Linked DNA regions of Homo sapiens. The protein of the gene in region 1 purifies or fractionates together with the protein of each later gene. This does not show direct contact. Each region holds a gene or a part of one and is shown in the gene's direction. Other genes may lie near its edges.

Region 1 (5,709 bases):
TTCCTGGGTTCAAGCATTCCTCCAGCCTCAGGCTCTGGAGTAGCCAGGACTACAGATGCGTGCCACCATGCTCAGCTAATTTTTGTATTTTTTGTAGAGATGGGGTCTCACTATATTGCCTAGGCTGGTCTTGAACTCCTGGACTCAAGAAATCCTCCCACCCTGTGTCAGCCTCCCAAAGTGTCAGGATCACAAGTGTGAGCCACTATGCCTGGCATTCCAAACATTTTTTAGATTTGGAGCTGAATGCAGCATGGGCAGGTTGTCAGGGTTGAAGCACTGGTGATCCAGATCTGGAAGGAGCCAGAAGCCTCTAAAAGAGGCCACTGCAGGAGCCTCCTGACCTGGTTTCTGGGAATCCATCTGCTTCAATGATTTTCCTAAAACACAAATCTGATCCCATCACATCTTTTTTTTTAAAACTCCTTCAGTGAAGATAGTTAAGAACTTGTGGCAGACTGCTTCTAGAGAACAAAACAGGAACACTGGGGTACAGAAATAAGAGATTTACTTTTCATGGATACCCTTGTGTAGTGTTTGGGGAAAAATTATAACCATGTACATATATTCACTATTCAAAGGAAGGTCAAAAGCCTCTCAAAAGTTTCTACAGCTTTCCACTATCCCTAGGAGAAAGAGAAGCCTTTACTTGGTCTATAATGCTCTTCACCGTATGGCCCTACCCAACTCTTCAACCTAATCTCATGTTAATCTCGCTTCCTGTGGCCCTTGTGGACTTGGCTAGACTGGCCTTCCAATTCAGCTGTGCCGGCCTCTTTGGGCTTGTACACAGGCTTTTCCTTCTGCCTCACTTTTAAAAAAAAATTATTATTACTATTTTTATTTTATTTATTTATTCTTTGAGAAGGAGTCTCGCTCTGTCGCCCAGGCTGGAATGCAGTGGTGCAATCTTGGCTCACTGCAACCTCCACCTCCCAGGTTCAAGCTATTCTCCTGCCTCAGCCTCCTGAGTAGCTGGGACTACAGGCACCCACCACCACGCCCAGCTAATTTTTGTATTTTTAGTAGAGACGGGGTTTCACCATATTGGCGAGGCTGGTCTTGAACTCCTGACCTTGTGATCCGCCTGCCTCGGCCTCCCAAAATGTTGGGATTACAGGTGTGAGCCACTGCGCCCGGCCTACTATTATTATTTTTATAAGAAACGGGGTCTCGCTATGTTACCCAAGTTGGTCTCGAACTGTTGGGCTCAAGCATGTCTCACTTTCTTATCCCCGCCTCTCCCTTTCCCATCTTTGCCGTCTACTTAGGTCTCTGCTTCAAAGTTACTTTTTCAGGGCGGGCTTCCCGCCTGAATTCCCAATCACCACCGGACTTGGGTCAGTCCCCGCGCTGGGCACTCACTGCCCCGGCACCAGCATCTCTGCAGCAAGCACCCATAACAACCATAAAGTGTAATGAGCTGCTCAGTGTGCCTCCCTACATCGTTAGTCCGAGGAGAGGGTCCCTCGGTGCCCAGCACAGTGCGTGGCACAGTCGGTGCTCAGGGAGCGATAGCTAGATGAAACCGTACTTTTCGGGATCCTAGTCCATCCAAAGCAGCCGCCTTCGGGGCAGGTGTGGGGAGGAGGGAGGCCGACGAGGAGCCAACGCCGCGCGACCCTCCGCACTTCCGTCTTGGAGGCCAGGGTGGCGCTGCCGCCGTCCCTCGCCCGGAGGCAGAGATGCGCTGGCGCATCACCGCCAGGAGCCCACAGTGAAAGACCATCGGATGGAAGGCGACGCCCAGAACTCCAGGAGACCGCTGTGGGAGGACGCGAGGCCAGGTGACGAATAGGCCAGGCGTGAGTTCCCAAACAGCCTCCTCCCCTTCAAGAGAGTAAGCTTGGGCCACAGGCTGGGACGGAAGCAGAGGGGCAGACACGCCACCACCCGCCCGGCCTCGAACCTACGGCGGCACAGTTCAGCGGAGGCGGCCCAGCGGTCCTGTCCCGCGCCTGCGCACTCCAGGCCCCGCCCCGCCCCGCGCCCTCCAGGCCCGGCCCGCCCTCCAACCTCTGCGTGCGCACAGCCTAGAGCCCGCCTCCGTGAAAGACTGCCGGGCGCATGCGGTCGGGGTTGTTCACTGGCTGTCCGGGGCTCCGCGCGCGTCGCCGGCCCAGCTCTGTCGCTGACGGGAGGATCTGAAGCCGGCCGCAGGTAGGCTGACTCCAGGGATCCCGGGGGGGATCTGTTCTCCCGCGCAGGAGTCAGCGGCGCGAGCTGAGCCCGGCGCCGAATAGCCCCGCCGCCGCGGTGACGGACGTCGCTCCTACCAATCAGGGGCGAGGTGACTCGGCGTCCTGCCCAATGGGCTGTGTGCCTAACGGGAGTGGGGCGGGCGCCCCGGCCGGCGAGCTGCCGGCTCCCGCGCGCGGGCCTCGTGGCCGGGCGGCGCTGGGGAGAGGGGCCAAGCGGGGCGCGGGGCGGCTTCAGAGGCTGCGGGGCCTGCGCTGCCGCGCTGGGCCGCGCCGAATCAGCTCGGCCGGGCTCGTCGGACGGAGAAGGCCGTAGGGGAGTGGAGCGGCGCCCCCCCCCACACCCTCCGCCCTTGCTCTTCGTCTGCGAGGAAGCCCGGCAGTCGCCCATCCATTCAAGCAGTGCGGGCCTCGGGCCTCCGGCCTCGGCGCGGGCTCAGCCGCCCGGGGCTGGGCGCGGCAGCTCCGCGCCGTAGGACGAGGGGGCCTGCGAACTCGCCGGCCCTGGGCCCCGCGGCTGGCCTTTGGGCCTCACGGCTTCCTCCCTTCCCGGCGGCCGGGGGTCGGGGCGCTGGCGGTGTATAGAGCTCACCACGTTTGCGTGGCGCCCTTCCGTCCACGCTCGTTACAGTTTCGAATCCTCAGCGGCCCTGTGACGCGGGCGGCGCAGAGATTCTCACCCCCATTCCCCTAGGTGAGAACCCGCGTTGCAGGCAGCTCAAGTGACATGATTGAGGTCTGCACACTAGTGATGGGGGCTGGCACTTCATCTCATAACATTGAAAGAAAAAGCATTTCCCCCCTCAGTCTTTGTTGAATTTCTCTGATGCGTCTTGATTTACGTTACTTCTGTGCCGGAAAACCTTCTTGCGCCTTCCGTCACCTTCAGGATTAAGTTCAGATTGGGCATGCCAGTTTGCACATGATCTGGCCCTTGCCTACCTTTCCAGTTTATCTTCCACTGTATATCCCTGCTTCCCCGCCTTCCCCCTCACGGCCTTACCTCTGTTCTCTGTAGCTGCCCTGCACCTGCCTGTTCACCCTGTTCCCTTTCCTGTGCTCTGAGTCGTGCAGTCAGTCCTTCAAGGCCCATTGCAAGTCATATCTACAAAACAGGAGCCGCCTGGATCCGCCCACTACCCCCAGGACTTGTCTCACCTTCCTCTGATGGCCATGGTACTGAAAGCGTCTGCTCTCATCGTCCCCCTTTATAGTCTAAACATGTTTTCTGTCTGCTTCCACCGTCACTGAATTACTCATTTATTTGTTAATGTTTCATCTCTCCAACTGGACTGCCAGAAAGTTGAGATATGGGCCCAAATCTGATTAATGTTTGCAGTCCCCAAGCACAGTAGCTGTCATGTAAGTCAGTAGCCCATAAGGATGAATGAATGAGCCTCCCGCCTGATCTTTATGTACACTGGCATATGTATTGCCAGGCACTGAGACTGCAAGAATCTAAAGAGAGAAACTAAAGAACGTAAAGAGAGATGTTAAACTCTTAGAGTAAAATTGGGACAAATCAAATGTAATTGGATGAGATGAATCTTTTGTAGAAGTAACTCACTCGGTGGCAGAGGAATTTCTAGGATCATCCAAAACTTAGGGAGACCAGGGTATAGTCTCAGTAAGGTATATGTCTGGTTAGAACATATCTAAAATGTACCTAAGACTGATTTTCATGTGTCAATAAGGAACTGTAAAGTGAGAGACTTAGGGTCAGATAAGCTTGGAGACACCGCATACTGTATAGCAGTGATCACAGTGCGAGTTTACTTGCTAAACACTCCCAGGATTCTTGCGTTAAATGACTTGGTTTAATCAGCGTTTCTCTGATTTATATCCATAACACCCTTTTTGAGAATCCCATGTGCATTTTGTTGAAACCAGGGAGCATGCTTTTGGAAATGCTGCAGCAGAGGATGCAAAGAGCCTTTGGAGCGGGGAAGACTTCTGAGCATTCTTCCTTCCCTGCCAAGTGTGTTCTTTCTTGCTCTGGGGAGGGGGTGGGGCGGGGGAATGCTTCGAGCACAACTCCTTAGTTTTCTTGTTCCTTAGTTTATTTTTATCATAATTTGGCTTCACATGGAACGTTCCTGAGGAGGAAAATGTCCTGACCATGCCAAAGTAAGCATTTTCTGCTACTTTCTAATTGTGTTTTTCATTTTGGTCACATTTGGGTTTGCTGACCAAATGGACGATCCTGGACCTCTGAAGCTGGGGACCAGTGATAAATCCTCCGTGGTGAGCCTGTCACGGTCTCCTCACCTCTTGTCGATGCTGTTTTCACCTGCATCTTGACTCTGCTGCCCTTATATCTTATTTCTCCTTTCCCTGCCACCGTGGCACTGCTTTTTGGATTTAATCTCATCTCCCCTCTCTTTGAGTCCTCTGCCCGTCATGTGCTTCAGACTGGTTTCTTATCTGATGTCCCTCTCCCCCAGTATTTACAGTCTCTCTTCATTGCATGCCTGGGAGAGATTTCTGACAAGGAGCAAGTTGTTGTTAAATTATAGAAGAGAACTACTTTTTCTTTTTTTTTGAGGTAGTCTTATTCTGTCGCGCACGCTGGAGTGCAGTGGCATGATCCCAGCTCACTGCAACCTCTGTCTCCTGGGTTCAAGCGATTCTCCTGCCTCAGTCTCCTGAGTAACTGGGACTACAGGCGTGCGCCATCACAGCCGGCTAATTTTTGTATTTTTAGTAGAGATGCGGTTTCCCCATATTGGCCAGGCTGGTCTCGAACTCCTGACCTCAAGTGATCCTCCTGGCTCTGCCTCCCAAAGTGCTGGGATTACAGGCATGAGCCACCATGCCCAGCCAGAGAACTACTTTTAATTAAAGGAATTTTGGTTTAGCTGCAACCACTTTTAAATGTTGATGTTCTTTCCTTTTAGTCTATCTTTTGTAACCTAGAGGAGCTGTGTTTTCTTGATGATATGTTGTAGTTTAGCCAAAGACATTATTTATTTCCTGGAGAACTGGAGTACTTATCCAAGTTTGAATTTTTTTCCCATGTAGGGAAAATAATGAGGCACCTGCCTGGTATCCCAGTGTCTGGCAGTGATGTCAGCAAACATTTGGGGTGTAGTGTTCTATCAGCCAGCTTAGAGCTGGTTTTATTAGGTTGACTCTGAAGGTTATTAGTTGTCAAAGCTTTAAACAAAAGCTGTGTTATTAGAGTAGCAGTTGTTTTTCTACACGTATTTGACTAAAGCCATTCAGTGATCCAAGAAATGTTTGTTTTGATCCTATTTAAACCTGACGAGAACCTTCTGAAGTCCTGTGACAGAGAAACTGAGGCTTCAAGAGGGTTCATAGCTAATAATTGGCAGAGCCAGTGTTTGAACCCAGATGAGTTTGGTTTGTTGAGATACATTTATATCATCTGTAATTTTTCCTTCTTCCAGGTCAAAGAGTAAAATGAAGTACATTCTGGTTACTGGTGGTGTTATATCAGGAATTGGAAAAGGAATCATTGCCAGCAGTGTGGGCACAATACTCAAGTCAT
Region 2 (4,821 bases), on another chromosome or scaffold:
TGTAGCTTTTCCTTTCATAATCCTGACGGTTGCCCAGAGGCCTCTCCGTTCCTCCAGGCAGACACAAATTTTTGTTGGCTTATGTAAATATAGGTTCACGTATAATACAAATATGTATAATACAAATGTTGATTTCATTTCTTTTACCTTTTTGAAGAACTTAACAAAGTTAAGTAGGGGAGATTTGAATATTGTGGCCATCGAGTAGCTCTCCAGACACTTGATTGACTTAATATGTATTTGATATAAATGGTTTTTTGTAATTGTCTTCAGCATTTTATACAAAGGCTAGTTTATAGAGGGAGGAGCGTAAATTTATACCATTGATATACAGATAATGTGTATCTGGAGGAAGAGAATTTAAGGCTATTGAAAGAAGTGGTATCTGTATCTGTTGCTTGTATTTGTGTGTTGGTGATATTAGTTGCTACCGCTCTCAACTGCAAGTCTCTTGACTGATCACCACTTTTTCTTCTGCTTCTCCTGGTTTGCTCAGCAGAACTGTTATTTTTAAACCAATATTTCTCAAACTTACCAAGCTTTTGACTAATCTTTGAAGAGCCTCAGCAAAGGCTGCCCTGAAGCTCTGTGCCTGTTAATATAGGAAAGGCTTTATGAAGCTCTACAGGAGAGGCCCTGGTTGAGCCCGTCGTTTGCGTGGTGATGGCATCTAGGCATGTGAGCACGTCTCAGGCCATGGCAAGAAAACAGTGGTCTGGCTGTTGTTCTGCACCCTTCTCCCCACACTTTGCTGTGGAACTCCTCTCTCGGTCGCCTCACTTCTCCCCTTTGCCTGTGTACTTCTGAAAGTACTTTTTATCCTTGGTCTTCTTCCTCTCTCAGTATCTTATCTACTCTGCCAAATGCAAATTCCACCCTCTGCAGATAACTCTGAAGCTTCCATCCTTTCCCCCTGACATCTTGCTTCACTTCCAACCTGAATTTCCAGCTGGTTGTGAGATGGTTCTATCTGAACACCCAGTCAGCACTTTGAAGTCCAGTTTTCTAGAAATGAGCTCTTTGCTTCCTCACTCCTCTCCCTCTCTGTTCTGTCCCTGAGAATCAGCACCTCCTATGAGCTTCTCTGTTTCCAGTAACAGAACCACAGTGTCTTGGTTTTATAGGGCAAATCCTCAGTGTCATCTTCAACACTTCTCCCTTCTGTCACCTCTAGGTTTGAAGTGGGGTTCTGTACCGTCTGCTCCCATGATGCCTCTTAAGTCCACCTCTTCCTTTCACTTCCACAGCTGTGGCTTTCTTTAAGGCTCTCCTGTAGCCTTTTGCATTCTGATGCCCACTGGGGGTCCTGCCAGTCAATTCAATTCCGTTCTGACACTAACTACTCAGAGACAGCACAGACCCCACAGGTCAAGGGCAGATCCTTCAATTCTGACACTAACTGCCTGGAGTTAGCATCAGACCTAAAAGTTAAAGGGTGAGATCACCAACAAGACTCCTCTTATTTCAGACACCAGCTGCACGTGAGGTCCCCAGGCCACCCATACTTGTGTCCAGCTTGACTACAAATTTGGAGCTTCCCACAACGCCCCCACTGATGTGTGTCACCCGGCACATCAACGTCTTCACCAATCAGGAAGCTTCACTGAGCCATGATGTCTGGGATTTTTATAGCGTTTTTGTTCAGTAGGCATGATGGCTTAAACCACTGGCCACGTGTTTGATCCCAACCTCTAGCGCCTGGAGGTGGAGGAAGGGAGTGAGGCCGAAAGCTCCAACCCTCTAATTATGTGCTTGGTCTCCCAGGCACGGCCAGCCCCTTCCTTGAAACCCAGCGCGGACTACAGGTTACTGTATTAGCACAAGCTCAGGTATGGTGAGAAGGGGCTCGTTATAAATAACAAGACACTCCTGTCACTCAGGAAATTCCAAGAGTTTTGGAGCTCTGTGCCTGGAACTGAGTAGCAAAGACCAGATATATTTGTTATTTCATCACACCTTCCTCTGTACTCTTCAGAGCCTGCTACCTGGTCTCCCTCCAACTAGGTCTGTTCTTTTTTTTGAGGCAGAGTCTTATTCTGTTGCCCAAGCTGGAGTGCAGTGGCACGATTTTGGCTTACTCCAACCTCTGCCTCCCAGGCTCAAGCAATTGTCCTGCCTCAGCCTGCTGAGTAGCTGGGACTACAGGCACCTGCCACCACGCCCAGCTAATTTTTGTATTTTTAGTAGAGACAGGGCTTTGCCATGTTGGCCAGGCTGGTCTCGAACTGCTGACCTCAGGTGATTTGCCCACCTCGGCCTCCCAAAGTGCTGGGATTACATAAGGTGTGAGCCACCACATCTGGCCAACTAGGTCTGTTCTATATCAGCTACAAGATAAATCTCTCAACATTACCACTCCTTCCCAGAAAAGGCAGTCGCTTCCCGTGGCCTAACAGAGGAAAGGTGAACTCTTCAGCCTGGCTTTTGTGGCCATTCAAAAACAAACTTCAGCTGATCCAGCTAGAGCTGGCCTCATCTTCTCTCCTTCCTGCCCCATGCTGAGGGGGCTGGCGCCTGCTTTTCTTTGTTTCAGCTTGTCCTGAAGCACCTGCTGCCATCTGTACCTTTTCAGCCCATCTGCATTTCGAGGCCCACCTGCGGTGCCTGCTCCCCCTGCCGTATCTCCCGATCCTCACTGCCATCTGTGCTGCCAGCATTGGGCTCTTTCTCCTTTGAGAATTCTTTGCACTTCATTGTACTCCATGCTCAGTGCTGCTCACCGTCTGCTTTATAATACAGGCCACGGTGTGCTTCGCTCAGCCCCTGAAATAGATGGTAGTCACTCTGGGAGCAAGAACTGTTTGATTTCTTTTTGTTGCTCTGGCAGTATCTGGCAAGGGTCTTGTACAAGATCTTGATCGAATTTATGGAAGTGATTAGCCACACTGTAGATAACGATGGCTTTCTGCTTGCAGAAACAAGTGGAAGCCGGTGTCTGTGTTACCATGGAGATGGTGAAAGATGCCTTGGACCAGCTTCGAGGCGCGGTGATGATTGTTTACCCCATGGGGTTGCCACCGTATGATCCCATCCGCATGGAGTTTGAAAATAAGGAAGACTTGTCGGGAACACAGGTACGTAGTTTGTGAGTGGGTACTCTGGAGGTTGAGTTCCTGGCCCCCAAAGCCCTTAAGATTTGATGCCCCTCTTCTGGATGTAGTGTTTTGCTCCCTACACAGCTTTCAGGTTTGCTATGCCCTGCTTCAGAGCAGAGTTCTGAATTCAGGAGCAGCCCCTGAGAGTGGGTACTCATGAGTGAGGGGTTTGGCCCCACACACAGGAGGCAGTGGACGCAGTTTGTGAGGCCGCTCATCAGGAGTGACTGCAAACATTTCCACTGTCTTTGGCTGCTAGGAAGCCAGCTACCTAATTTCTTCCTATTTCTACCCAAATGCGTCAGTCCCTTTGCATGGAAATTTGTGTTTCTAGTCTTACCTGTTGCTTCATGTTATTTTCTGACCCTCATGTTCCATTTTCCTTGGGTTTTCTCACTTCTTATCCTATTGGACAATATTCTTTGTCTAAGCCATGTTAAATAAATGAAATATGCAGAAGTAAACAGGCAGCCCCTTTATACCTCGATTTAAACACCCAGCACGATGCCAGTGCCCTTCCCTGGCAGTGGCCTACAGATCTGTCTAAGACGAACTATATGGATCAAGGTGCAAATGAGATAGGATCTCCCTGTTGTCCAGAGGAGGAAGTTAACTGAGTCAGGGCATGAGTGGAAACTTAACAGGGAAGGTACTAAAGTCAGCAAGGACTTAGAGTGAGGTGCGGGAGTCAGGCCTCCCATGGTGAGCACGGGGAGAAATCTGTCCCCTGCCCCCTGCTGGGAGGGGCTCAGCTGGGCTCTGCCCCCTGGGTGGGAACACACAGTCAAGCCATTCTTACGACTGGCCCCAGGCAGGGCTCAACGTCATTAAAGAGGCAGAGGCGCAGCTGTGGTGGGCAGCCAAGGAGCTGAGAAGAACGAAGAAGCTTTCAGACTACGTGGGGAAGAATGAAAAAACCAAAATTATCGCCAAGATTCAGCAAGTAAGTACTTTTTGCTTTAATGTGTCAGTAGTTTTTGTTATTTCCCTTCAAACTGATAAAAATGTACAGTGAATCCGAAAGATTTAAACTACTGGTACAAATATTTTAATCTTATTGGCTCGGGTTTAAACTAAAAATATCCTCTTCCTGCACACCAACAAAAACTGGAAGAAAATATGGATTGAGTACCAATATCTAGAGTTTGTTTTAATATGTGGGGGAGAGGAAATATACTATGTTAATTTCAAGCGTAAAAATAGGGCTGCAAGTAAACAGATATGTTCCTTGAAATGTAAAATTTCGCCCGTCACTGATTTCAGGCTTTTTCAAACTGCTGATGCTGTGTACAGGAGGGGGAGGAGGAAAGGTTCGAGACCTTTGAAGGACATCGTGTAGCGCTGTAACCTGAGGGGCCGCCTTGGTTTTGTGGGTGCTCCTACGTCACTAGGCTGTGATTTTGGGGAAATGGGGCCCTCCACCTTATGTAGATCCAGAGTCCGTGGCTCTGAGCATCCTCCCTTTCCCACTGGACCTGCCTGCAGTGTCTGCCTTGGGAATGGTCAAGACAGAGATGGTATCGTGCAGCCTCTGGTCTCCACACAGTGAGAGTCCAGGGCTCAGGGCTGCTCAAGACCAAGGCTTCCCTTGATGCTTCACTTCGGGTGATCAGACATGGGGGACCTGTTTATCTTTAGTAGCCGGCAAAGGCAATCGTAAAACATTTGTTGTAACTTCAGGATTGTCACTCTAAGAACACCTTAATCCACAATTTGCTCTGCTCTC
Region 3 (5,048 bases), on another chromosome or scaffold:
TGGTGTGATCTTGGCTCACTGCAACCTCCGCCTCCTGGGTTCAAATGATTCTCCTGCCTCAGCCTCCCAAGTAGCTGGGATTACAGGCATGCACCACCACGTCTGGCTAATTTTTTTGTATTTTTAGTAGAGATGAGGTTTCACCATGTTGGTCAGGCTGGTCTTGAACTCCTGACCTTGTGATCCGCCTGCTTTGGCCTCGCAAAGTGCTGGGATTATAGGCCTGAGCCACCGTGCCCGGCCATTTTTTATTTTTTGTTTTTTTTGTTTTTTTTGTTTTTTTGAGAAAGGGTCTCCCTGTTGTTTAGGCTGGAGGGCAGTTGTGTAATCATGGCTCACTGCAGCCTCAACCTCATGGACTCAGGCAGTCCTCCCAACTCAGCTTCCCAAAGTGCTGAGATTACAGGCATGAGCCATCACACCTGGCCTGATTTTTTGTTTTTTTTAGAGACAGGGTCTTGCTCTTAAACACAGGCTAGAGTGCAGTGGTGGAATCATAGCTTACTGTAACCTCACACTCCTGGGCTCAGGTGATCCTCTCACTTCAGCCTCCCAAGTAGCTAGGAATACAGGCATGCATCACCACACCAGGCCAATTTTTTAATATTTATGTGGAGATGGTCTCACTGTGTTGCACTGGCTGGTCTCAAACTCCTGGCCTCAAGGGATCCTCCCACCTCAGCCTCCCAAAGTGCTGGGATTACGGGCATGAGCCATCACACCAGGCCACTTTGTCTGTTAATTCGAGACTGTAAATATCCTTTTTCCACTTACACTTTCCATAATTTTAGCATCCACCAGTGGTTCCTTTACTTTAACTATTTTCTGGCCAGGCGTGGTGGTTCTCATGCCAGTATTCCCAGCACTTTGGGAGGCTGAGGCTGGCAGATCACTTGAGGTCAGGAGTTCGAGACCAGCCTGACCATGGTGAAACCCAGTCTCTACTAAAAATACAAAAACTTAGCCAGGCATGGTGGCACACGCCTGTAATCCCAGCTACTTGAGAGGCTGAGACAGGAGAATCGCTTGAACCCAGGAGGAGGAAGTTGCAGTGAGCTGAGATCACGCCACTGCACTCCACCCTAGGCGACAGAGCGAGACCCTGTCTCAAAAAAAAAAAAAAAATATGGCCAGGCGTGGTGGCTCACGCCTGTAATCCCAGCACTTTGGGAGGCTGCGGCAGGTGGATCACCCAAGGTCAGGAGTTCGAGACCAGCCTGGCCAACGTAATGAAACCCCATCTTTACTACAAGTACAAAAATTAGCCGGGTTTGGTGGTGGGTGCCTGTAATCCCAGCTACTCAGGAGGCTGAGGCAGGAGAATCACTTGAACCCAGGAGGCAGAGGTTGCAGTGAGCCGAGATTGTGCCATTGCACTCCAGGTGGATGACAAGAGCGAAACTCTGTCTCAAAAAAAAAAATATATATATATATGTAATATATATATTTTATATAAAAATGTGTAATATATTTTATATAAAAATATGTTATATATGTTATATATATATTTTATATTTTTTTAGACAGACACACACATATAAAATAACTATTTTCTGACGTTGAAATTTTCGACAATTTTCACGTTTTCCTAATTCCACTGAGTAATTTGTGAGTAATTGTTTACTTTTTTTTTTCTTTAAATGTTTTCAGGTATTTGACTGGAATGGTTGACAAAAGGACGCTTGAAAAGTATGAAAGAGAAGCTAAAGAGAAAAACAGAGAAACTTGGTATAGTAAACTTTTATGACACTTATAAATTACTTTTAAGGAGACGATGCCCACTTAGTGCTTTTGGAGCCTGTTAAAATATAAATTGTTGAAGTCTAAAATCGTATCACAACAAAGGAAATTTCCCCTCTCCTCATAATACACAGTAGATGAGTTCCTAATGCTTTAATAACTTACACAGAGAAATTTGGAAACAATCCATATATCTGGTGATAGACTTGTTGAAAATACTATAAACCATCCATTTAATTGGGTGATTTTGCAACCACTGAAAACTTACATTTACATAATTTATAGTAACCATGAATAGAACTTGCGTTGTGGTGGCAGTTGGGGGGAAGCAGGAAACATCCCTGTACTTAAGATATGACCATTATATAAATAAATGCTGGAAATAAAATGGAATGGAATTATTGACAGTGGTTGCCTTTGAATGGTGAGACAGTCAACTTTTTTGTTTTCTAACCTTGTTACTTTTATTTTTAAAAAGTTAGCAAGCCTTACCTCAATGGGATATTGACAGTCATTTTTTTAAAATAAAATTATATTCCTCTAAAATAAGCGGGAGAAATGCTAGTCAGTGTTGTTATAAAAAATTGAGGACATGCTGTGAAGATGATGAGGTAAGCTAAATTAATGCCCACTATTACGGATGGTTTGAATTTATATGAATTTTTGCCTGGCAGTGTGATATTGAAGCAATTTTTAGCAAGTAACCATTGCTCCCACATGGTGCGTTAGTGGCTTTCAGTTTTCAAAAATATCTGAGGACAGTTATTTTTTATTTTATTAAAAAGTTTTAGTCCTGGCACAGTGGCTTAAGCCTGTAATCTCAGCACTTTGGGAGGCCAAGACGGGCGGATCACGAGGTCAGGAGATCGAGACCATCCTGGCTAACATGGTGAAACCCCGTCTCTACTAAAAATACAAAAAATTAGCTGGGCAAGGTGGCAGGCACCTGTAGTCCCAGCTACTTGGAAGGCTGAGGCAGGAGAATGGCGTGAACCCGGGAGGCGGAGGTTGCAGTGAGCCGAGATTGCACCACTGCACTCCAGCCTGGGCAACAGAGTGAGACACCATGTCAAAAAAAAAAAAAGAAAAAAGGAAAACAACTTTTATTGGGCCAGGCGCGGTGACTCAAGCCTGTAATCTCAGCACTTTGGGAGGCAAGGCAGGCAGATCACACCTGAGGTCAGGAGTTCGAGACCACCCTGGCCAATATGGTGAAACCCTGTCTCTACTAAAACTACAAAAATGGCCGGGCACAGTGTCTCACGCCTGTAATCCCAGCGCTTTGGGAGGCCGAGGCAGGCGGATCACCTGAGGTCAGGAGTTCGAGACCAGCCTGACCAACATGGAGAAACCCTGTCTCTACTAAAAATACAAAATTAGCTGGGCATGGTGGCGCATGCTCTAATCCCAGCTACTCGGGGGGCTGAGGCAGGAGAATCACTTGAACCTGGGAGGCGGAGGTTGCGGTGAGCCGAGATGGTGCTGCTGCACTCCAGCCTGGGCAACAAGAGCTAAACTCCATCTCAAAAAATATATATACAAAAAGTAGCCGGGCGTGGTGGTGGGCACCTGTAATCCCAGCTACTTGGGAGGCTGAGGCAGGAGAATAGCTGGAACCTGGGAAGCAGAGGTTGCAGTGAGCCGAGATGGTGCCACTGCACTCCAACCTGGCCAGAGCAAGACTCCCATCTCCAAAAAAAAAAAAAAAAAAAAAAAAAAAGAAGAAGAGGGGTGGGGGTGCCGGGCACGACCTAGGCTCTGTTGCCCAGGCTGGAGTGTAGTGGCTCCATCTCCACTCACTGCAAGCTCCACCTCCTGGGTTCACACCATTCTCCTGCTTCAGCCTCCCAAGTAGCTGGGACTACAGGCACCCGCCACCACGCCTGGCTAATTTTTTGTATTTTTAGTAGAGACAGGGTTTCACCGTGTTAGCTACGATGGTCTCAATCTCCTGACCTTGTGATCTGCCTGCCTCAGCCTCCTAGAATGCTGAAATTACAGGCGTGAGCCACAGCATCCATCCAAAAAAGTTTTATTATTACCCTTTAACTCTCAAGACAGCCATTATTTGTGTTGTATTTTGTGCCATGTGAGTATAAAAATGAAGTAATAAGGGAGCTCATTATCACTTAACACACAGTGATATTGGCATTTGTAGTTAGTCTTTCTGTGTAGTCAACTTGCCATAAAGTTCTAGATGGTATAATTGACTGCGTTTATATAAAAGCTCTAAGGGTTTGAATCAAAATAATACATTCTTTCAGTTTTATTTTATTTATTTATTTTTTTGAGACGGAGTCTCACTGTGTCACCAGGCTGGAGTGCAGTGGCGCGATCTCAGCTCACTGCAACCTCCGCCTCCTGGGTTCAAGCGATTCTCCTGCCTCAGCCTCCCGAGTAGCTGGGACTACAGGCGCCCGCCACCATGCCCAGCTAATTTTTGTATTTTTAGTAGAGATGGGGTCTCACCATGTTGGCCAGGATGGTCTCAATCTCTTGACCTCAGGTGATCCGCCTGCCTTGGCCTCCCAAAGTGCTTGGATTACAAGCATGAGCCACTGCACCTAGCCCTTTTTTTTTTTTTTTGAGAGACAGAGTCTCCCTCTGTTGCCCAGCCTGGAGTGCGATGGCACGATCTTGGCTCACTGCAACCTCTACCTCCCAGCTTCAAGCGATTGTCCTGCCTCAGCTTTCGAAATAGCTGTGACTACAGGTGTGCACCACTATGCCCAACTTTTGTATTTTTAGTAGAGATGAGGTTTCATCATATTAGCCAGGCTAGTCTCGAACTCCTGACCTCAGGTGATCTGCCAGCCTCGGCCTCCCAAAGTGCTGGGATTACAGGCGTGAGCCACTGCGCCCAGCCCTATTCTTTCAATTTCTTTGTTTTCTTTTGAGACGGAGCCTTGCTCTGTCGCCCAGGCTGGAGTGCAATGGCACGGTCTTGGCTCGCTGCAACCTCCTCCTCCCAGGTTCAAGCGATTCTCCTGCCTCAGTCTCCTAAGTACTACAGGTGGGCTCCTCCACACCCAGCTAATTTTTGTATTTTCGGTAGAGACAGGGCTTCACCATGTTGGTCAGGCTGGTGTCGAACCCCTGACCTTGTGATCCGCCGCCTTGGCCTCCCAAAGTGCTCAGATTACAGATGTGAGCCACCGCACCCGGCTCAATTTTCATTTCACCAATCTTGTTCGTGATTTAGGTGTTGTGTGTCATCCATTATATCTTTAATGGTGAAGAATATCCTAAAAACTCTGATGTTCTTAGGAATATTGTTCTTTTTTTAAAAATTATTTCAGGTACTTGTC
Region 4 (5,048 bases), about 31 Mb from region 1:
AATGCCTACCATACATGAGTGTGGAGTAGCTGGAGTAAACATACTTTCAGGAGCCAGACTTTGTGGGTTTAAATCCCAGCTTTGCCACTTACTGTGTGATCTTAGACAAGTTACTTAACCTCTCTGAGCCTTGGGTTCATCATCTATAAAACAGAACTAATAAAAGTACCTACTTTACAGGATTATTATGAGATTAAATACTGTATATGAAAAGCACTTAGGCCAGGCGCGGTTGCTCATGCCTGTAATCCTAGCACTTTGGGAGGCCGAGGCAGGTAGATCATTAAGTCGGGAGTTCCAGACCAGACTGGCCAAGATGGTGAAACCCCGTCTCTACTAAAAATACAAAAATTAGCCAGGCACGGTGGCCGGTGCCTGTAGTCCCAGCTACTCGGGAGACTAAGGCAGAGAGTTGCTTGAACCCGGGAGGCGGAGGTTGCTGTGAACCAAGATTGTACTACTGCACGCCAGCCTGTCTCAAAAAAAAAAAAAAAGAAAGAAAGAAAAGCACTTAGGGCTGAGCACAGTGGCTCATGCCTCTAATCCCAGCACTTTGGGAGGCCAAGGCGGGTGGATCATGAGGTCAGGAGTTCGAGACCAGCCTGGTCAACATGGTGAAACCACGTCTCTACTAAAAATACAAAAATTAGCCGGACATGGTGGTGCACGCCTATAATCCCAACTACTCGGGAGGCTGAGGCAGGAAAATCACTTGAACCTGGGAGGCAGAGGTTTCAGTGAGCCGAGATCGCGCCAGTGCACTGCAGCCTGGGTAACAGAGTGAGACCCTGCTACAAAAAAAAAGAAAAGAACACTTAGAACAGAATCAGGCACGTGATGAGTGTTCTGGTAGTGCTAGAAGTGATGATTGTGATTCTAGTTATTACCTACCAGGAGTTCTGCTCAGCTCTGGAGCCATACATACTTGAGATGCAGGGATAGATGTAATTTCCTTACGGTTATTTGTCATTTGCCAAATATTTTATTCTTTTCAGCCTGTGACATTCTGGCCATTGATAAGTCCCTGACACCAGTCACCCTGGTCCTGGCAGAGGATGGCACCATAGTGGATGATGACGATTACTTTCTGTGTCTACCTTCCAATACTAAGTTTGTGGCATTGGCTAGTAATGAGAAATGGGCATACAACAATTCAGGTAAGAAACTCTAGCCATGTATAAAACGGCCTATGCAGTACAGCATCCATCATGATTACTTTCACTGCACAGACAATTGCCATTTGTCTGGCTTTTTAAGCATTTGTTCAACAGATATTTACTGAGCACTTTCTATGTGCCAGACATGGTGCTGAGTCCTGGGGATAAAGATGAATGAGGCCAGGCACGGTGGGCAGATCACCTGAGCTCAGGAGTTTGAGACCAGCCTGGCCAACATGGCGAAAGTCCATCTCTACTGAAAATACAAAAACTAGCTGAGCATGGTGGCAGGCACCTGTAATCCCAGATACTTGGGAGGCTGAGGCGGGAGAATTGCTTGAACCTGGGAGGTGGAGGTTGCAGTGAGCTGAGATTGTGCCACTGCACTCCAGCCTGGGCGACAGAACGAGACTCTGTCTCAAAAAAAAAAAAAAATAGATGAATGAGACATGGGCCCAGTTCTCAACTAACTCATGGACAGACAGCAACTGAAATGCAGCCTGGCAGGGAGCTCAGTGCTGCAGGCTGCAGTCCAGCTGTTGAGGTCTGGATCCTGGCTCTACCATTTACTAACCAGGTGACCTTGTGCAAATTACATAACTTCTCAGTGCCTTGTTGACATAATAATTATAGAACCTGTCCCCTAAGATTGTTGTAAAGATAATATAGTACATATCAAACCAGGGTTTCTCAATGACACTGCTGACATTTGGGGCTGGAGTTGTGAAGAGGATGCTTTGTGTATGATAGGACGTTTAGTAGCATCCTAGATGTTACGAACCTCCCCCCACAACTGTGATAACCAAGAATAAATGACTCCAGATATTGTCAGATGTCTCCTGGGGGGCAAAATTGCTCCCACTTGAGAACCACTGATATGAAGTGTTTAGATCTTACCTGGCACATAGTTAAGGACTCAATAATTGTTACCTGTCCCTGCCATCATCATCATCACAGGAGATAGAAAGGGGACTAACATTGGTGACCAAGGATCAAGAAGTGTCTTGAGAGGGGATTAGTTTTAGGGAGGGACTTAAAAAAAAAAAAAGTGTCCTGAAGTGTGCCACAAAATTGAGGAAGTCATCCTACAGCAGTGGCCCTACCAGCCACCTTTGTGCTCAGGCCTAAGGGACAGCAATCGATGGCTACAGCTCTGCCAGTTAAAGAAGGGACCAATCCCCAAGCACAGAGAAATGCTGGCACAAATGACCGTTTTCGTATAAAAAACAGGACACACCTGGACACACAGAAACCAGAAAGGGAAGTGTGATTGGATTCCTTGTAGGTGTGACCACACATTGGGTTTAAATGGCTTTTTCTATGGAAGAATACAGAGCCGTTGCACACAGAGATAAAGATGAAAGAGGGTCAGGCACGGTGGCTTATGCCTGTAATCCCAGCACTTTGGGAGACCGAGGTGGGCAGATCACTTGAAGTCAGGAGTTTGAGACCAGCCTGGCCAACATGGTGAAAGCCCGTCTCTACTAAAAATACCAAAATTAGCTGGTCATGGTGGTGGGCACCTGTAATCCCAGCTACTTGCAAGGCTGAGGCAGGAGAATCGCTTGAACTCGGGCAGTGGAGGTTGCAGTGAGCCAAGATCGTGCCACTGCACTCCAGCCTGGGCAACAGAGTGAGACTCTGTCTCAAAAAAAAAAAAAATGAAAGAAGAGGGAAAATCAAGGTCCTGGATGGATATTGACCCTCCTGTGAATCCTTGAGATAAGATGCTTCTTTCCCATTGAAATTAATCTAGATCCTCAAGAGGTCTGTGTGTGCTGGGGGAGGAGGTGAAAACAGCACTTCAGGTTGTTCTGTGACTGGCATTTTCTCCCATGTGTCAGATGGAGGTACAGCTTGGATTTCCCAAGAGTCCTTTGATGTAGATGAAACAGACAGCGGGGCAGGGTTGAAGTGGAAGAATGTGGCCAGGCAGCTGAAAGAAGATCTGTCCAGCATCATCCTCCTATCAGAGGAGGACCTCCAGGTAAAGCCTCCTCCACAACCTGCAACAATGTTCATCCAGCCTCTGCCCCCCGCCCCAGCACCTTCTTAGCTTCCATACTTGCCATAGCAATTTCTTTGTTTTAATCTTAATTTTTAAATAATTCTTAAATTACAACTAAGATTTTTCATCTTCTCATTCTCACCTAGAGTAATTTTTCAACCCTCGTCACGAAGCAGAATTACCTGTGGATTTTTTTTTTTTTTTTTTTTTTTTTTTGAGACACAGTCTTACTCTGTCGCCCAGGCTGGAGTGCAGTGGTGCAATCTCAGCTCACTGCAGTCTCCACCTCCCGGGTTCAAGCAATTCTCCTGTCTCAGCGTCCCAGGTAGCTGGAATTACAGGTGCACACCAACACGCCTGGCTAATTTTGGTATTTTTAGTAGAGACAGCGTTTCATCATGTTGGCCAGGCTGCTCCTGAGTTCAAGTGATCCACCTGCCTCAGCCTCCCAAAGTGCTGAGATTATAGGCGTGAGCCACCGTGCCCGGCCAGATTTTTTTTTTAATACAAATGCCTGGGATCCACCCTAAACCTAGTTAGGTGGACGCTGGGGTCAGGGATGCCCTGCTAGAGAATGTAGCGTTGGAGTAGATGGCTTCACATCCCAGCGCTGTCACCACGACTTTGAGCCAGTAGCTTAGCTTCTCTCCTTGTGTTTTCTCTCTAGTAAGATTGGGATAGGCCAGGTGCAGTGGCTCACGCCTGTAATCTCAGCACTTTGGGAGGCCGAGGCGGGCAGATCACGAGGTCAGGAGATCGAGACCATCCTGGCTAACATGGTAAAACCCCATCTCTACTAAAAATACAAAAAATTAGCCGGGCCTGGTGGTGTGCACCTGTACCTGTAGTCCCAGCTACTCGGGATGCTGAGGCAGAAGAATCGCCTGAACCCAGGAGGTGGAGCTTGCAGTGAGCCGAGATCGCACCACTGCACTCCAGCCTGGGTGACAGAGAGAGACTCCATCTCAAAAAGAAAAAAAAGATTGGGATAAAAACAGTATGTTTTCATTCAAAGAAAATTTCTCTTTGAGACAGGGTCTTGCTTTGTCACCCAGTGCAGTGGCATGATCATAGCTCACTGCATCCTCGACTTCCTGGGCTCAAGCCATCCTCCCACCTCAACCTCTCAGGTAGCTGAGACTGTAGGCTTGCACCACCACACTGCGCTATTTTTTCTTTTTTTTTTTTTTTAATTTTTGTAGGCCAGGTGCAGTGGCTTATACCTGTAATCCTAGCATTTTGGGAGGCCAAGGTGAGCAGATTGCCTGAGTTCAGGAGTTTGATGTGGTAAAACCCTATCTCTACAAAAATTAGCTAGGTGTGGTGGCGTGTGCCTGTAGTTCCAGCTACTCAGGAAACTGAGGCAGAAGGATCACTTGAGCCCAGGTGGTCAAGGCTTCAGTGAGCCATGACTATACCACACCAACCTGGGCAACAAAGCAAGACCCTGTCTCAAAAATAAATAAATAAATAAATAAAGCCAGGCGTGGTGGCTCACACCTATAATCCTAGAACTTTGGGAGGCCGGGGCGGGCAGATCACGATGTCAAGAGATCAAGACCATCCTGGCAAACATGGTGAAACCCCGTCTTTACTAAAAATACAGCCGGGCACGGTGGCTTAACGCCTGTAATCCCAGCACTTTGGGAGGCTGAGGAGGGTGGATCACAAGGTCAAGAGTTCAAGACCAGCTTGGCCAAGATGGTGAAATCCCGTCTCTACTAAAAATATAAAAATTAGCCAGGCGTGGCGGCAAGCACCTGTAATCCCAGCTACTCAGGAGGCTGAGGCAGGAGAATCACTTGACCTGGGAGGGGGAGGTAGCAGTGAGCAGAGATCACGCCACTGCATTTTAGCCTGGGAGACAGAGCAAGACTCTGTCT
Region 5 (5,048 bases), about 53 Mb from region 1:
CACGGCCGCATCCCCCGACAGGTACCTGGTCTTGTCCCTTCCAGAGCATACACGGCTGCTCTCAGGCAATGTACAGATTGATGACCCGCAGGGTCCCACTCCGAGGCCACATGGGCGGAAGCACCTGTGTAACCAAAAACAAATACTCTAAAAATGACTTCATTTAGACCCTTCTCTAAGAAGACCTTGGGAAGAGCTGAGGTCAAGAACCCAAAGCACACATCCACATGTTCAGGAAGTGAAGGGACAGCCAGCGCTCCTGGGGTCTGCAAGCACAGCGTTGTGGGAGGCAGCAGCCACAGAGTCAGTAACCGGAAGAACTAGGAGGGCGGGCTGTGGCCCAGGTAATTGAACTCTTGGCCAGCTGCCAGCAGCCTCAGACCATTTGCAGCCCCTCCTTCTCAAGGCAGTGGCTTAGCTTCGGGAGGAGAGAGGGCAGGTGGCCCAGATCAACAAGGCTGCCTCTGCCCCATTGAGCTGGCAGTTATTCACACTCTCCATCACTTCCCTACTGGATCCTGTGACCCAGAGGTGGGAAAAAAGGGGAATTAAACCCATGACCACAGACTCATGGCCCAGAATATACTTTGTGATCGTCATTTGGGTGATTGCCATAAATAATGTTTTTTCATTTAATACTGTAAAAATTGAAAAATAGAGTAAGTCTGCAGAATTGAGGCATAGAATTTCCCTTGGGTTTTTATTGTAAACCTGATCTGGCCAATCATTAACCAAGGACAACATGACAGGAAGTGTGTGGACAGGGGCTGGGGGGAAGGGCATCATGTCGTAAGTTTTTTTTCTTTTTTTTGAGACAGAGTCTTACTCTATCACCCAGGCTGGAGTGCAATAGCACAATCTCAGCTCACTGCAACCTCTACCTCCTGGGTTCAAGCGATTCTCCTGCCTCAGCCTCTCTGGTAGCTGGGATTACAGGTGTCCACCACCATGCCCTGCTAACTTTTATATTTTTAGTAGAGACGGGGTTTCACCATGTTGGCCAGGCTGGTCTCGAACTCCTGCCCTCAAGTGATCCACCCACCTCAGCCTCCCAAAGTGCTGGGATTACAGGCATGAGTCACTGTGCCCAGGCTTTTTTTTTTTTTTTTTTTTTTTTAATGTAGTAGATTTCTTGGCACAATCAAATAAATAATTATTATTCTGACTTTGTTTTTTTAAGTTTAAAATTGATTGTAGAAAACATAGATAGCAAAAAGAAGGAAATTAAACTCTTATCCATAATTCTCCTCATAATTCTCCTGGGGATAACCACGATGAATACTTTTGTGTACATACATCCTCCCGGGCTTTTTGAAATCAAGTATGAGATTGTACTACATATACTTTTTTGGTAGCCCATTCTACTCACTTACTATGTCCTGGGAATTTTCACCCACTGTAGAATATTCTTCTGCACCAGCCTACATTGTATGTCTGTCCACGGTATGCATGCACTACAATTTACTGGACACATAGGGTGTTTCTAATACTCTGACCAATATCCTTTAAGATTGCTGTGTTCATACCTACAATTATTTTCACAGGCTCAATTCTAAGAAGTGGCATTTCTATGTGAAAACATTTTTAAGGCAAAGATGCAATTTTAAAGTAACCATGGTAGCCTACTATTTTGACCTAACAGAAGTATACTGTTGATCAAATGTTGGAATGTTCCAGAAAAATTGTCAGAATTATAAAACCGATACTATCACCACCGTCCGTCTCCTTATCATGGTCATTACATTCGTTTACTACTTGCATGAGTATTAATTTTCAGTGATAAATCGTTCCAAACTGGATAACTGAACACTATAACCATAACCGTAATAACGAGTTATTGCTAACATTTTAGCCCCTTAAATCTTTGTAGCCATTCTATAGGTAATATTATCATTTGTGTTTTTCAGATGATATAAGTGAGCCACAAGGAGATTATGTAATTTGTCCAGAGTCATACAGCTGAGCCAGGATGCAAACCCAGGTGGTCAGGCTACAGGAACAGCCAGGCTGCACCACATTATAAATTCTCCAGTTGCTGTAAGCAGCAGCATCATGCTTGTTAACTATTTTTGAGCATCCACTGTGTTCCAGTGCTTACATATGTTATGTATACAAATACATAACCCTGATAGTAACTGTAAGATGAGGGACCCCAGCCTGACTTTGTTCTAGGCCTTCTAGCCAGTAATTGGTGTGTCCAGAATCTATACCCCAGTCCTGCATGTGGACTCCTCCTCCCCACTGGCCAGGCCTGGAGAGGGGCATCTTAGGAGAGGGCCCCTAGGATGACTTCTAGACACCAACAAATACCCTTCTTTCTCTTCACTCCACTTGTTGGGGAGGGAAAATCAGGCCTGCCAGGCACACATTTTCTCATTTCTTATTTCCTGTTTCATTACATCATTCAGGTCTGTATAAACGTCATGTTCTTGTGACACCTCCCCAACCACCCTATTTTACTGGACAGCCCTCATCCCCTCCCCGGCACTTCCTGCCTCCTTTCCTGGTTTACTTCTTCCCTGACCTTACAGCTGACATACCATAGCCACTGGTTATTTATCCTCACTAAAACAGAAGCTCCCCACCAAAAACAGGAGCTCCATAAGGTGGGCTCTTGTGTGCCACTGTCACCACTGCATCCCCTGAGCCTGCAGTGGTGCTTGGCACGAGTAGGTGGTCAGTGAATAGTTCTTGAATGAATGATTGGCTCTTCTATGAATTTGATCTTTGAAAAACTAAAGAGCTGACCCAAGAAGAGACATAGTAGCATTGTCTTCTGTTGGCCCAGAGAAGTGGGTAGCCATAAGCTTTTAGAAGGAATGTGAATTTGCCTTTCCTACTCCTCACTCACCTTTTTGTCCCAAAGGTGTCTGAAAACCTTGTGCAGCGAGATGGTGACTTCCTAGTTCGTGACTCTCTGTCCAGCCCTGGGAACTTTGTCCTGACCTGTCAGTGGAAGAACCTCGCTCAGCACTTCAAAATCAACCGGACAGTTCTGCGACTCAGCGAGGCCTACAGCCGCGTGCAGTACCAGTTCGAGATGGAGAGCTTCGACTCCATCCCCGGCCTGGTGCGCTGCTACGTGGGCAACCGCCGGCCCATCTCCCAGCAGAGTGGCGCCATCATCTTCCAGCCCATCAACAGGACGGTGCCTCTGCGGTGCCTGGAGGAGCATTATGGCACCTCCCCAGGCCAGGCCCGGGAGGGCAGCCTCACCAAGGGAAGGCCGGATGTGGCCAAGAGGCTGAGCCTCACCATGGGTGGCGTCCAGGCCCGAGAGCAGAATTTGCCCAGGGGAAACCTCCTCAGGTAGGTCAGGGCCTCCTCTGCAGGACTATGAGGGGCGCCGGGGTGCCCAAGGTTAGTTAGGCAGGTGAAGAATTCATCATGGAACAAAGAAATAAAAGATGTTAATAGGAATGCCGACTGTTCGCAGAATAGCTGTCACGAGGCAGTGAACAATTAGCTCCCAGCTGAGCAGTGTCAGCAATGAATGGTACAGGAGCTGAGGAAGAATTTCGGGGGGTGCTGATGGGGATACCTTGTGAAGGGGGTAGACTTAGGCTGGTCTGATGGCTGGGGGAAATTTGGATAGATGCTGCAAAGGGCTGGGGGTGTTCCAGGTGGGAGGCATAGCATGGGCATAAGTGTGGGGACAGAAAATGGTATGAAGAGCTTGAAGTGAATGTGCTGGTAGGGCTGGAACAAAGGGTCTGTGCAAGGGACCCGTAGCAGTGGGCTTAGGGAGATAGCCCCAGCCAGATCATGGGGGCCTTAATGCCAGGTGCAGGGCTTTAAGGGAGCTGTACAGACTCAGCATAGCGAACACGGTGTCCTAAGAATAGAAATGGACAGTGATGTACCGGGGGTGAGGAGAGAGACAGGAACAGGAAACCCAGTTAGTGAGTCATGGAGGGCCCCGGCTGCAGGAGTGGAGTGGAGGGAGAGTCAAGAGATGTAGGAGCCTGGCCTCCCAGGACTCTTCTTCACGTGGTAGAGTCAGAGGAGGGCACATTGGAGACCACAGGAGTGACCAGGAGGGAGGGGACTTTGGAGGATAAAACACACTTTTTCATCTGAGCTGGAAGACTATGGGCTTGTTGAGTGCCACAGTCCAGCAGCAGTTTTGGGGTCCAGGAGGGGAGTTAGAGCTGAAAACTTAAATTAGGGCTTGGTCCACCTGGAAAGGGTGGTTCACTTGGTGAGAACAGATGAGATTTCTAAGATAGGAGATGCAGAGAACATGGGGTCTGTAGTCTGAATCTCAGGGAATGGGGGAAGAGAAAGATTCAGGGCACTTGGTGGAAAATCAAGGCTTCAAAACCTCACTGATCCTAAGCACCCAGCTGTCAAATGTCAGCGACGTTGGCCTGCATTTGTATAGGGCCCGTCTTTCACAGAGCTCAGAGTCTTTGTGCATATTATCTAAAAGCACTGGGAAAGGAAAGGAGGGAAAAGGCAGGCATCGGGGACATAGATCCAGTCCAGCCCCTCAGTCACACAGCAGCCCTGACCCGGCTCCCAGCTTCTAATCTTATGCACGTAAACCAACATATTTTATTCTACTCACTGGTTTTTTTTTTTGGCGGGGGGGTCCATGAGGAAATGTCATAAACTGTCATTTCTATACTGCAAAACTTAGGGAGGAAAATACAGGACTCTGTGTGGAATGTAAATGACAGCTGTGTGCTGCCTGGAGGCTCCGGCACATGCTAGTCAGCATCTGGCTGGGGACCCAGTAGCCAGGCACAAATGCCGGCTCCACATTGGGCAACTTTTCAACCATGGGCAAGCGACTTGACCTTCCTGGGCCTCACCTTCTTCATCTAGAAAGATGGAGCTTGTGAGGTGTACATGATTTAATATATGCAAAGTGCTCAGAACAGTGCAGGCACAGAGGAGGTGCTAGGGAAGTGCTCATGATAATTATTATCTGGAGGAGAGTAGAATGTCAGACTCAGACCCAGCACAGTGGCTCACAGCTGTAATCCCAGCACTTTGGGAGGCTAAGGTGGGCAGATTGCCTGAGCTTCAGAGTTCAAGACCAG
Region 6 (3,500 bases), on another chromosome or scaffold:
GGGAAATGTTCCAGGGAAGCAGGGTTCTGGTCAAGTGAAGTCTGGGAAGCATGGCAGGCCTGCTCTGGCCTCCTCTAAGAGGATCTGCACATTTGCATAGTAAAGTTTCCGGGAGATTCTTCCATATGAAATTTAGTTTAACCCAGTGTTACTCATTTTCAATGGGAAACTGCCACCCCCCGCCCCCCCAACATCCTTGTTTGGAAACACTGGTGTGATCCCATTGATTGAAGCTAACTGCCATTTTCCCAGGGGAGAGGAATTGACCTTGAATAGCTAATCTCTTGTGTAGGCATTATAGTTTGTTTTATATAAGTAGGTAATGTGAAGCGTGTGCAGTTCTTAACTGCAGAGCGTGAGCTTATTCTCAAAACTGTCTCCTTCGTACAAGCCCTAGTCAAAGACCCCTGGCAAGCACTGCATAGACACATGAACTCTGACACACTGATGCCAGCTTGCATATAGAATACTGGCTAACAGGCTTCTCTCTGGTGTGTTGTTCATTAGCAGACGCAGTGTTATGCTGAGTATTTGCCAAGATAAGTAAAGTGGTAATTTAGATGGAACATTTTTGGGTCACCTTTTTTTTTCTGCAAAACACTACAAATTCGAGCCCAACTTGTTTTGCTTTGTTAAGGGCCTTTTTTTCTGCCTGTGTATTTGTAAAGGATTTCCTATTTTTGCTGGAGTGTGCATAGTTATGGGCCTCTATTGATTTTATGTGTGCCACAGTGAGCCCCTTTGACAGGGGGTCATGTTATTTTTTAATTATGTGATGAGATGGGCAAGGTAGGAGGGGTTGTGTTGATGGTGAGACAATGTGCTTATATTGATGTGGCAGATAAATGATAATGACACCTCCAAATTTCTCATTTCGCCACAGTCTACTTTTCAGTTTGACATTCTTGTGCTTTGAACCTTTGGAGTTCTTTATTTTTGCCATAATTTTCCTTAAAACGACAGTGATAAACTGGAGTTCATAATGATCAGTAATTTATATGCATTAAAAAAAGTTGCTTTGATGAGATTCAAAGCAGTTCCCTTAATTCAGTTATACTCCTTCCTTCCTTTTTTCCTCTCCCTCTTCTTTCCTCCTTTCTTCCTCTTTCCATTCTTCATTTTTATCGTTTATTCCATTCACATATTTATTGAGTGCCTGCTGTGGGCACAGTGATTTTTTTACTTCTTGCAATGAAGCCTCAGAAAAAAGACATGAATATGAGCCCTAAGGAGATGATGGTCTAATGGGAAACCGGAAAGGCGGATATAAATAGCCCTAATACAGTGGATGTTAAGAAACAGATAAGTTATTCTAGAAGTTCAAAGAGGGGTCAGAGGGCTTCAGGGCATCTCAATGAGAGGGATGGGATTGTTATTATCTGTAGGTCACATGTGTGGAGGGTACAGTTGACTCTCCCCAAGAGCATAATGACTATTGTATGTTGTGAATTAAGAATATAAGCTTTGAAGTTAGTAGGACCAAGGTTGGTTTAAAGGATCTGGTTTTTGCTTGGGGATGTTCGGCAAATTTCTTTCTCTAAGCCTCAGATTTTCATATCTGCCAGTGACAATGGTACTATCCACACTCGTTGGGGTACTGTGAAAACTGAATATTATGTACAGCGTTTGGAGCAGGTCTCAGGTTGAATAATTGGCATTTACTATTTTAAGCGCATCCTTGGTATTGCATGTTCTTTTGTATGTAGTAACGCATGGCAATGGAAGCTGTAATGCTGCTGCTACTACTGCTGATGGTGATGAGGATGCTGGTGTCCACAGGTGCTTTCAGTTGTGCTGATGGCGGAGTATGGAAGGCCCAGCTCTAGTATATTGAGCATTTGCTTTGCCACATTATGAGGGAACATTTCAGTTTTAATCTTAAGAGGTCAACTTATATGTCTAGAATATACATTTATTAGGGAAATCAGGATAAATGATCCAGTCTAACATTCTGTTGAGTGTTGAATTAATTTCTGTATTGTAATGTATGTCATATTTTACATACATACATAAAATACACAAAGTTGTGCATGTGTATGTTTGTGTGGTATTTTCCGGGTATCATCTCCATTGCTGATGATAATGCTTTTTCATTTACAGGTCGGCGGAAGCAGAAGTGGGCTGTGGATCCTCAGAACACTGCCTGGAGTAATGACGATTCCAAGTTTGGCCAGCGGATGCTAGAGAAGATGGGGTGGTCTAAAGGAAAGGTATTTTGGAGAAAAGCGGAAAAAAATCTGAGCTATGAAAAGAGATTAGAAATTAGGGGAAAACTTCCTTCTTAGGAGACTGGAAGAAACTTATGCTTTGGATCAGTAAGTGATTTTGATCCCAAATCAAAAATTGTTGTGACCTTATGATGATAAATTAGGATTGGACATAAGTGTCAACTTTCTATCATTTAAGCTGCCATGCTTAGCATCTTTCATAGACATTGCAACTAGGCTACACGCTTTTTCCCTTTCCATTTATTCTTGACTCCAGTAGAGCCTCTGCTGATACCTCTACACTTAAATGGTTCTTGTTGAGGTCTTTAGCGATCTCTAAGTGCCAAATCAGTGGGCCGCTTGTTTTGTTCTCACATTACTTAACTCCTCAGCAGTGCTGGATGTAATTGACTACTCTCTCCTTGAAATACTTCTGTCTTGGCCTCCACAGTGCTATTGTCTCTTCTGCTCTTCTTTTCACCTCACTTGCCACTCCTAAATTTGTTGCTGTCTCTTCTTTCTATAGACTTTTGATTATTAGGGCTCCTTGAGGCTCAACCTCAGGCCCCTTTTTTGCACTTTGCTGCAGTGATCTCATTCATTCCCTTGCCACACTTTGAATTAGCTAAAGTCTGGGAACTGTCATTTTTCTATATTGAGTCCAGTTCTGTCCTCTGAGCTCTAGATTTGTAAATTCAATAGCCTACTTGATATTTCCACTTGAGTAAGCATTTCAAGGGTATCATTTCTATTATAAAACTCTTGATTCCCCCAAATATATTTTTCCCAGGTTTTCCCCATTTTTCATACATGGCACCGTCTGCCACTTACACAAGCCAGAAACCTGACAGTCATGCTTGATTCCTCCGCCCTCTTGCCTCCCGCAGCCCAGTCGTCGTTTTTCTCCAGCCTCCCGCAGCCCCAGTCGTCATTCTTCTCCAGCCTCCCGCACCCCAGTCGTCATTCTTCTCCAGCCTCCCGCACCCCAGTCGTCATTCTTCTCCAGCCTCCCGCACCCCAGTCGTCATTCTTCTCCAGCCTCCCGCACCCCAGTTGTCATTCTTCTCCAGCCTCCCGCACCCCAGTCGTCTCTTCTCCAGCCTCCCGCACCCCAGTCGTCTCTTCTCCATGCAGGGCAGAGCCCTGCTTCAGCCACTGTCATCACTTGAGCTCACTGACTGGTCAGACTCTCAGCTGCCTCCCTTCCTCCCTCCTTTTTCTCCTCTGGCCCATTTGCTGTACAGCAGCCAGAATGATCTTTTAAAATATGGAAATTAGATCATGTCATCCTTA

Evidence for each region.
Region 2: the proteins of CTPS1 (region 1) and CFAP298 purify together in Homo sapiens (affinity purification with mass spectrometry; one large-scale study listed by BioGRID and IntAct). This does not show direct contact.
Region 3: the proteins of CTPS1 (region 1) and GSPT1 purify together in Homo sapiens (affinity purification with mass spectrometry; one large-scale study listed by BioGRID and IntAct). This does not show direct contact.
Region 4: the proteins of CTPS1 (region 1) and DFFA fractionate together in Homo sapiens (co-fractionation; one large-scale study listed by BioGRID). This does not show direct contact.
Region 5: the proteins of CTPS1 (region 1) and BCAR3 purify together in Homo sapiens (co-immunoprecipitation; one large-scale study listed by IntAct). This does not show direct contact.
Region 6: the proteins of CTPS1 (region 1) and PINX1 purify together in Homo sapiens (co-immunoprecipitation; one large-scale study listed by IntAct). This does not show direct contact.

Annotation. Positions count from the first base shown.
Region 1 is NC_000001.11:40,977,670-40,983,378, forward strand, and holds the start of CTPS1 (CTP synthase 1), read left to right. Parts: upstream 1-2,026; 5' UTR 2,027-2,160; intron 2,161-2,360; exon of another isoform or gene 2,361-2,892; intron 2,893-2,922; exon of another isoform or gene 2,923-4,317; coding exon of another isoform or gene 4,318-4,325; intron 4,326-4,370; exon of another isoform or gene 4,371-4,442; intron 4,443-5,608; coding exon of another isoform or gene 5,609-5,621; coding exon 5,622-5,709. UniProt on the Homo sapiens protein: This enzyme is involved in the de novo synthesis of CTP, a precursor of DNA, RNA and phospholipids. Catalyzes the ATP-dependent amination of UTP to CTP with either L-glutamine or ammonia as a source of nitrogen.
Region 2 is NC_000021.9:32,602,378-32,607,198, reverse strand, and holds part of CFAP298 (cilia- and flagella-associated protein 298), read left to right. Parts: intron 1-2,915; coding exon 2,916-3,074; intron 3,075-3,906; coding exon 3,907-4,038; coding exon of another isoform or gene 4,039-4,110; exon of another isoform or gene 4,111-4,821. Other genes in the region: CFAP298-TCP10L (uncharacterized protein LOC110091775), read left to right, coding at 2,916-3,074, 3,907-4,038. UniProt on the Homo sapiens protein: Plays a role in motile cilium function, possibly by acting on outer dynein arm assembly. Seems to be important for initiation rather than maintenance of cilium motility.
Region 3 is NC_000016.10:11,887,742-11,892,789, reverse strand, and holds part of GSPT1 (eukaryotic peptide chain release factor GTP-binding subunit ERF3A), read left to right. Parts: intron 1-1,650; coding exon 1,651-1,728; intron 1,729-5,039; coding exon 5,040-5,048. UniProt on the Homo sapiens protein: GTPase component of the eRF1-eRF3-GTP ternary complex, a ternary complex that mediates translation termination in response to the termination codons UAA, UAG and UGA.
Region 4 is NC_000001.11:10,465,286-10,470,333, reverse strand, and holds part of DFFA (DNA fragmentation factor subunit alpha), read left to right. Parts: intron 1-995; coding exon 996-1,157; intron 1,158-3,001; coding exon 3,002-3,144; intron 3,145-5,048. UniProt on the Homo sapiens protein: Inhibitor of the caspase-activated DNase (DFF40).
Region 5 is NC_000001.11:93,587,238-93,592,285, reverse strand, and holds part of BCAR3 (breast cancer anti-estrogen resistance protein 3), read left to right. Parts: coding exon 1-21; exon of another isoform or gene 22-318; intron 319-1,118; exon of another isoform or gene 1,119-2,866; coding exon 2,867-3,309; intron 3,310-5,048. UniProt on the Homo sapiens protein: Acts as an adapter protein downstream of several growth factor receptors to promote cell proliferation, migration, and redistribution of actin fibers.
Region 6 is NC_000008.11:10,833,376-10,836,875, reverse strand, and holds part of PINX1 (PIN2/TERF1-interacting telomerase inhibitor 1), read left to right. Parts: intron 1-2,100; coding exon 2,101-2,210; intron 2,211-3,500. UniProt on the Homo sapiens protein: Microtubule-binding protein essential for faithful chromosome segregation. Mediates TRF1 and TERT accumulation in nucleolus and enhances TRF1 binding to telomeres. Inhibits telomerase activity. May inhibit cell proliferation and act as tumor suppressor.